Linked DNA regions of Homo sapiens: all the other regions are linked to region 1. Evidence: fine-mapped expression QTL. A gene starts in region 1. Each other region holds a variant in brackets. All regions are shown on one strand. Distances are between the middles of the regions.

Evidence for each region.
Region 2: its variant is fine-mapped to the expression of CCDC85A in thyroid (GTEx, PIP above 0.99).
Region 3: its variant is fine-mapped to the expression of CCDC85A in B cells (Fairfax 2012, PIP 0.92).

The regions. Positions count from the first base shown.
Region 1 is chr2:56,182,609-56,185,365 of GRCh38, forward strand. CCDC85A (coiled-coil domain containing 85A) reads left to right here and starts at 1,382. Exons shown (of 6, transcript NM_001080433.2): 1 at 1,382-2,292. The coding sequence starts at 2,017. All of the region lies in intron 1 of LOC100129434 (a long non-coding RNA gene), which reads right to left. RefSeq lists a silencer at 1,052-1,381.
Region 2 is chr2:56,248,817-56,251,573 of GRCh38, forward strand. The region is part of intron 2 of CCDC85A (coiled-coil domain containing 85A); the gene reads left to right. Among named protein-coding and RNA genes, the nearest start is that of CCDC85A, 66 kb to the left of the region's middle. The variant G/A (reference allele first, on the strand shown) is at 1,273.
Region 3 is chr2:56,356,057-56,358,813 of GRCh38, forward strand. All of the region lies in intron 3 of CCDC85A (coiled-coil domain containing 85A), which reads left to right. Among named protein-coding and RNA genes, the nearest start is that of CCDC85A, 170 kb to the left of the region's middle. The variant C/CTTTT (reference allele first, on the strand shown) is at 1,599.

The DNA of each region.
Region 1 (2,757 bases):
GATCCCCAGGCTGTAAAACCCAGCAAGAGGCGGAGAGATTTACATGTCAAAGGGTCAGAGGAAACATTCACCAATGGAAGTTGGCTAAAGTAAATGCTCTGAGAAAAGGAAGGTCTGGGGCCTACAGTTAGGAAGAAACCTGTCTAAAGTTTAGTTAAGCTGAGGGGAATGTTAAGGCCATTTGGTCACCGTAAGCAGTACCACATTTCCTTGCCTCTCCCGGGAGCCAGGTCTCAGTGTCCCCAATAGGGGACACGCACTGACCGGCGGGTGAAGGGACTGATTTTGATTATCATCCTACCAGATAGAGATTATTCCCTCTGCACCCGGGTTAACTGAAACCCGGTGGGGGTAGATCCTTGCCATTTTCCGGCCCTGTACCCCACTGGAAATAACATGCGGTGGTCAAGGGCATCCACCTCTTTAGGCAAAAGCATGTTTTCAGCCCAGAGACGATTCCACCCAACTTTACAAGAGGATAGCCCAAAGATAGAAGCCAGGGACTCAGACTTCCTCCTTCCAGAAATAACCATCATAAAAAAGCCGACCCAGTAAACGCCTGGCAGCCTGCGGCATAGAAGAAAATGGAAATCTCCTTGGCTGGCATTTCAGCTTGCCTGAGGGGGCTTGCTTTGCTCCGAGGGGAGGTGACTGTGCTGACCTTAAAATCCAGGTTTCAGGAAGCAGGAGATGAAGGTATTTTATTTTCGCCTAAAGGCTTTGATATTTTTCAAATAAAAATTTAAAAGATCCAGTACCTTCTCCCGAAGCTTCTTCATAGAGTAGTGGATTTTTAGAAAACACAAAGGCCTAGGGGTGGGGCGAGAGTGGGGGGTGGGGATGGGTAGCCCCATAAGAGCAGTGCCCTGACGCCTCTTTTCGCCCTTTTCAGACCATTTGGATTTTCTTAAGCTGCCCCTTTCCCCAACCCCCGTTTTTGCCATTTGCCTCTCCTCCCATTCTCCAAAGTGCAAATAACTGGTTATCCCTCAGGTCCTGCTACCCCATCTTTCCTGATCCCCGATCCCTCCAAATACGAAGCACCTCGCATTTGGGTCAGCAGCTGTTTCCCCTGCCTGGTGACAAGGCCGGTGTGCAGAGGGCAGAGGAGGGAGCTTCTTCCGCCACACGGTGGCGCGCGCGAGCCTCCCAAAGACCGGGCGGCCACAGCTCCTCACCTTCTCCCCATTCCAGCCCCACCCGCCCGGGCGCAGAAAGAGCCGCGCCCCCAGCCCTCCCGGGCAGGACAGCCGGGAGCGCACCTCGAGGGCCCGGGCAGCGGTCGAGTGGCAGCTGCGTCCAGCCCATGCGGGAGCTGCTGCGGGTTACGGGTGGCCCCAGCTCCAGGCTCCTCCTCCAGCCGGTCCCCCACCCTCCACCCCTTCTCGACTCCGCTCTGCAAATCGAAGGCTTTCCGGAGCAGCCTAGGAGCGGCCGCGGGCGCAGCGAAGGCGGCAGGAGGAGCGCAGCAGCCTTCGGGCAGCCGCGGCGGCGTCGCTAGAGCAGCCGGGGAGGCGCCGCGGTGCCCGGCGCGCCCTCCAAGCTAGGAGAGGGGAGAAGCCGGGGGCTGCAGCTGGGCAAGGGGGAGGAAAGTGCGTGTGCGTGCACGCCTGTGTGCAGGGCAGAGAGTGCGGGGGGCGACAGTCTCGGCTTAGGGCGGAGGAGAGGGCAGGGGAACGGCGGTGCAGCTCCCCCGCTGTCCCCGAGGATTTCCCGCGGCAGCCCCGGGCTCCCCAGTGCCCCTCACCATGGACTTGCGCGGAGTTGGGACGGGCCTCGGCAGCAGCAAGCGGCTGGCTGCCGGGCCCTGGGGGAGCGCGGGCGCGCGCGCGGGGATGGCGAGGTAGGATGGCCACCCAGCGCGACCCCCGCCGCCCCAACCCAGCGGCCCCTGGGCGGTGCCGCTGACTCGCCGGAGCGCACAGGGGTGTGGGCGGAGGCGGCCTCGCCGCGCCCGCGCCTTCGGGAGTCGCCTCGCCTCTTCCACCCACTTGCACCTGCCACCCCGCGGATACCATGTCGAAGGCGGCCGGAGGCGCGGCGGCGGCTGCGGCGGCGGCGGAAAGTTGTTCCCCAGCCCCGGCCGGCTCGTCCGCGGCCCCGCCCGCGCCGGTGGAGGACCTGTCCAAAGTGTCGGACGAGGAGCTGCTGCAGTGGAGCAAGGAGGAGCTGATCCGCAGCCTGCGGCGCGCCGAGGCGGAGAAGGTGAGCGCGATGCTGGACCACAGCAACCTCATCCGCGAGGTGAACCGCCGCCTGCAGCTGCACCTCGGCGAGATCCGCGGCCTCAAGGTGAGCGCGGGCCAGGTGGGGAGGCGCGGCGCGGCTGGGAGCGGGGTGCCCCGAGGAGGAGGCGGGGCCAGGCAAACTTTCCCTCCCTCCCTCAACAGGTGACCCTCCCCTTCTCCCGGTCGGCACCCCCTACCCCCAGTCCCCAGCCCCTGTGTAACTTTTCCAAACTTCGGAGGCGTCTGCTCCCCTCCTCTCCCCAACACGGGGCGCTCCACTGTCTGGCTGTTCGGGGAGGCGCTGAGGACGCTGGAAAGCAGGGAGGGAGGTGAAGGGCACGCGAACCTTTCATTTCTTAGGGAGGCTGGAAAATCTGTGCCTGGGGAGCCGGGTTTCAGTCAGTTAGGCGGAAAGGCCAGTGAGGGGGTGAATCCAGGGGATCTTCGCCTTGGAGGGTCGGGAATGCGGCTGCTCTGGGCCAGCAGCTCTTGGGCGGGCAGAGGGCGAGGAAAGGGCGCCACTGCCAGG
Region 2 (2,757 bases), 66 kb after region 1:
CCTGAAGAGGGAAGGTCACTGGCCAAGGTCATATGGATATTGATTAGAAAAAATGAGAATTCATGTCAGATAGTATGATGCCAAAATCCATACCCTTAGCTACCATAGTTGTCCTAAAGAGCATATCAGGGAAGTGCCTGTATTGGCAAGAACAGATGGGGTTCTAGAAAAGGTTAGGGCGGGACTGTGACCTTCAGTCAAGGAATGAATGCAGCCCAAGATGACAATGGAGGGAGGAAGTCCAGGAATAAATAGCAGGACCTTCTCTCTTCTTCTGTCTAATATCCTGCAGATGCTTGCCAGTGACTGAGCCCAGTGGGAAGCTAGCGGTCTGGACAATCCATTGCTGTAACTCATATAGATCAGAGCTGCTGGAACAAGGGGAGGAAGTGGCTGTCACTATAGGAGCAGGGCCGCCAGACATGAGCTCTGCCTTAGGCAGAGGGATGTACCAATGCCAGACCACAGACTGCATTTGGGAAAGAGGAGGAAACTCCCTTTACTTTCTGTCTTTCTTTGCTCCCATCCCTTGCCAGGGACACTTATTGGCCATGCCCAGTGAGATGCTAGAAGGCAGGGAAGCTGGTTTGATGCAGCCTCCTGGAGTACAGAGCAGGAGGGTAGAGTGAATCTGAAGAAGCACATGAAAACAATCCCATACAGGGCCTATATGTGAATCTGTCCCTGAAGAACAGCCTCAGAAGACACACTGTGGAAGCTTTGAGGTCACTGGGTCATTGGTCAGCAGCTTTATTTAGATCAGCTGCCTTTGCGTATGCAGCATCTTTCATTGACACAGAAACTTGACCTTGTTACATATCAGTTTTCTCTGAGCCTTCACGAAGTAGCTTTTATCAATTTTCTTTGCCTTCTAAGTAAAAGCCAGCAAATTTGCAGAGGGGCTGGTCTCCCCACATCTGGTTATCTGTATATTTTGCAAATTCTTGACCTTGAGTGGTCCTGGCATGTAGTTATTCCTCTGTGTCTACACCTGGGCCCTGGGGCATTTGTGTCCTTCAGATGCCCCTTCCTCTGATAAACTTTCTGAAGGTTCAGCATTTTCTGTGTCCCATTAAAATTTAATTTGCTGTAACATTGCCAGGCCCTGCCATAGCTATATTTAAATGGCTTCATTGCCTCATTCTTTGCATTGCCTCTGCTTTTGAGGATCTTGAAATGGTAAATGTCTTCAGTTGTGCCAGCAGCCATGAAGGGCAGGCAGGGGCTTTGTAGATGATATCTGTGTACTTATAGGTTTTGCTCCTCTAAAAC[G/A]TGTAAGCAAGGACTGTGAGGTTATTGTGAGAGTGAAGGGCATGGGAGGAGCATTTGGGTACAGCAGGAAGCATTTGAAAACAAATGTTAATTCATTTAAGAGTTTGGTGCCTGTTTAATTTTTGGTAAGCCCACTTAAAATATAGTAAGATTTTAAGTTGGAGTGCTTTTCCAAGCATGAGCAATAAAAATGTGCCCTGGACCCTATGCTGTAATTGGCACAGAGACTGTAGTGGAGTTTTACCCTTTGTACCCAAGCCTGTGTCTCTGCAACCTTTGGAAAATATTCTTAGTTTGAAGTTAGAAAACAAAGTAAACTGTCTGCTTGAACATTGTTGAAAAAGTTATTGTACTAGCCTATCAAGGATAAGATGATACAAACCAGGTCAGGGGAAAGAAGTTAGGAAATGCCTAGTGACATCTGTATGGTAGTCGGCTTACCTAGGGTAGAAGCTCAGTGAGAGAGAGAGTCGGGAGAATAGGAGGAGACAAGGGCAGGACATTTTGGGTTTCCTGAGAAGCAGTGGTTGGCAATTTCTCTCCTGAGTTTCCAGAAATGACATATTATAGGAAGGGTTGCAATGTGATTCAAATTGCTAATGTGTGCTTCTTGAAAAAATATCAAACCACTCCCCCAAATTGAGGTATTTGGTTAATAAACAATCAAGTCTCTGTTCATTGAGTTATCATTTGTCATTGCTAGAGTTGATCTATTGAACTAGAGCAAATTGGGGAATATTAGAAGTACATTTGAAAGACTTTGGATACAGTTGTCTCTTACTGTAAATGTCATCTTTTTTTTCTTTCTGTCATATTCCCAGTACCCCTCTCTGACCTCTCTTCTTTGCTATTTTGTCTTTCATTCGAGTCCCTTTCTATTTACTCTTTTTCCTTCCATTTTAGTTTAGTTCTGTCTTTTGTGTGTCTGTGTTTTCCATTCATTTTATACGTTTCTGGTCTGACACTTTATTACCTAGTGTTGTCTGTGCTGTATGTTTCATCAGTTCTTTCCTCCCCCAGAGGTATCTCCTGGGATCTATAAATAGTACTGCAACAATGTGTTGGTGAACTTTGGGTGAACAAAGGGTATGGGTCGCTTTAGACCTTTCTTAAGGCAGCCCTGTGTTGAGGGCTCTGTTTTCTCCTGTAGGCAGCAAATCCTTTGTGAGCCCAAGTTTGCCCAGTGCCTGGTATATATTAGGTGCTTAGTGAATATTTGTTGAACACATGGATGTATTATCTGAAAATGTTGGGCCCATATGAGTGGAAAATAAGGGTTGCTGTTTGGGAAAAAGTTGACGAGTTTCATGTGAGTTTTCCTCTGGGAATAGTGGCCTTGCCAGTTTGGTTGCTGTTTAGTCTTGACACTTTCTTCTACAAATGCTTATTTTCTGTGGGTTCTGCTGTTTCTTTTTCCTTCTCTATTAATAAATATTGTTTGTATCATGTTGCAACCTCCTCTTTGGCTTAACCTCCCTTGGTCTG
Region 3 (2,757 bases), 170 kb after region 1:
CATATGTGATGAAATTTAATATCTATAACTACAGAAATCTCATAAGAGGAAAAGATAAAATGCACACTCAGAAATAAATCTAACCAGTAAATTTGATCACAACTAAATTGTGTGGGAATGATTGGTCGTTATGCTTTTGGGTGCCTAGCAAGTATTGAGTGCCAAAAGTTAACAGAAGCTACAGTTAAAATTTGGATGAAATATTTCTCACAAAGAGTTTTAAGCAAAGGGGCCTTTATCAACTTTGTATTTTGCAATTTTTGTTTGGAACAAGCCCCGTTCACTTTCTACTCCTGTTTCTACCACACTCCCATTTTAATACATGATTCTTTAACCAGTGAAACTCACATGCTTTTGTTAGTAAGTTCTCTAAATGGTCAGATAGTTGGTGATGGCAGCTTAGGTTCTTTGCCAATTGAAAAAGACTTTGGCTGTGATAGGCTGAGCCAGGTGGATCACCTAAGGTCAGGGATTCAAGACCAGCCTAGCCAACATGGTGAAACCCCATCTCTACTAAAAATACAAAAATTAGCCAGGCATGGTGGCAGACACCTGTAATCTCAGCTACTGAGGCAGGAGAATCACTTGAAACTGGGATGCAGAGGTTGCAGTGAGCTGAGATCATGCCACTGCACTTCAGCCTGGCCGACAGAACTTTTTTTTTCCATCTCAAGGAAAAAAAAAAAAAAAAGAAAAGGACTTCGGAGAGGTCATTTTAAGATTGAGCCCTAGGCCGGGCACGATGGCTCATGCCTGTAATCCCAGCGCTTTGGGAGGCCGAGGCTTGTGGATCACGAGGTCAGGAGATCAAGACCATCCTGGCTAACATGGTGAAACCCCATCTCTACTAAAAAAACCAAAAAAACAAAAAAGTAGGCCAGGCGTGGTGGTGGGCACCTGTAGTCCCAGCTATTCGGGAGGTTGAGGCAGGATAATGACGTGAACCTGGGAGGCGGAGCTTGCAGTGAGCTGAGATCACACCACTGCCCTCAAACCTGGGCAGCAGAGTGAGACTCCATCTCAAAAAAAAAAAAAAAAGATTGAGCCCTAAATAGCCACTTGTGAAGAAGGTGTCTCATGCAGTCTTCTGAGCATTGATTCATTGATTTTATTGTAGAGGATTCTCTTGGTTAGGGAAACCAGTCATACTGAGCTGTTGTCACTTGAAGAAGAGATCAAGATAGGCATGAGAGAAGGTGGGGACAGCTGCCCCTCAAATGTTCACTTAAGTACCCACTATGCTCAGGATCTTAATATTAATAAAATTCATCAGAATCAGTCATGAGAGTGTGATAAGACATCTTTCAATTCTAGATAGAAGTATTTTGGGGTGATTTCTTGTGGCTACAGTTGATGCCATAATTTATTGTTAATAATTGGTCTTTAAACCATTTGAAAATATTCAGTGTTTTTATCACTTTGATTTTAAGTACTTTTATTGCCTTATTAAACTATGCTTTTTATTTTAGATGTATCTTTTGTGTTAATGTTTTTTGAAGGCATGAGTCCTACTGGGTTTTCAGTGTGTGTTCAGTATCTTAAGTCTTTAGGGCCCAAGAAGGGACATTGTAGGTCATGGAAGGGATAGTGTCCATTTC[C/CTTTT]TTTTTTTTTTTTTTTTGCTATGTTCTTTTCTCTTAAATGATGAGGTTGCAGCCTGAAATGGACCTTTCTTTCTGTGAGAAACAGAGCTTATGCCAGAGCAGGGTGGATATTTACAAGCATCTGTAACCCTTACAGTTGGATCTGACTCAGGTTACAGACAGGGCACAATACAATATGGAGACCCAGTGTGTCATCAGTTCCAACCTGGTGCTTTGTTTCTGTCTCAAGCACTAACCACATCCTGAGTATCAGCTGGAGTCCTGGATACTGGCCCAGCATTGAATCCATCTTGATGATGATTCCCATTCTGACCCTGGCCCCCCATGGTTATTCTATTTTGCAGGTGAGAGAATGTCACCTATTAATGGACAGGGCAAGGTTTGTGTCCAGATTTTCTGTTACCTCTGGTTTAGTATTTCTATTTTGCTCAGACTTGTCACGTGACACTTTTGCATCTCTTGAAGCAAGATAATCTGTGAAAATGACACTATCACCACTACCTCCACCACCATCAGCCAAAACAAACCTCTGCGTAGTATTGGGGTCTGAATACGACAGATCCCAGGAAACCTGGGCTTTAGTTTCTAGTCCATCTGTTTTGATATTTACTATGAGAGTTCATTTCTTTAATAATGTTTTATCCAGTTGGGAAGGTCTTGTCCTTTTAGAACTCTTAAGAAATTTCAAGCCTCCAATAAACAGTTACTCAGCAAAGGACATTTGTCTATTTATCACTTATTTTCTGGTTCATTTACTGCTTCCGTTTAAGCACCTAGCCTCCTTCTCCAGAAATGTCCCAGACTATTCCAATCTGCAGTGACTTCTTTATTATCTATACCAGGGTTGGCAAACTTTTTTAGCAAAGAGCCAGGTAGTAAATATTTTCAAATTTATGGGCCATATGTTCTGCTTCAGCTACTCACATCCTGCCATTGTAGTGTGAGAAGAGCAGAAAACAGCCACAGAGAACATGTAAATGAACAAGTGTGGCTGTATTAGAATAAAACTTACTTACAAAATAGACAGTGGCCTGGATTTAACTCTGGCAGTAGTTTGCTGATCCCTGCTTTACACTAAAATAATTTATTCATCCATGACTCTGGGTTATCTCTTATATTTTTGTCTTTTTTTCTTTCTTTTTTTTTTGACATGGAGTTT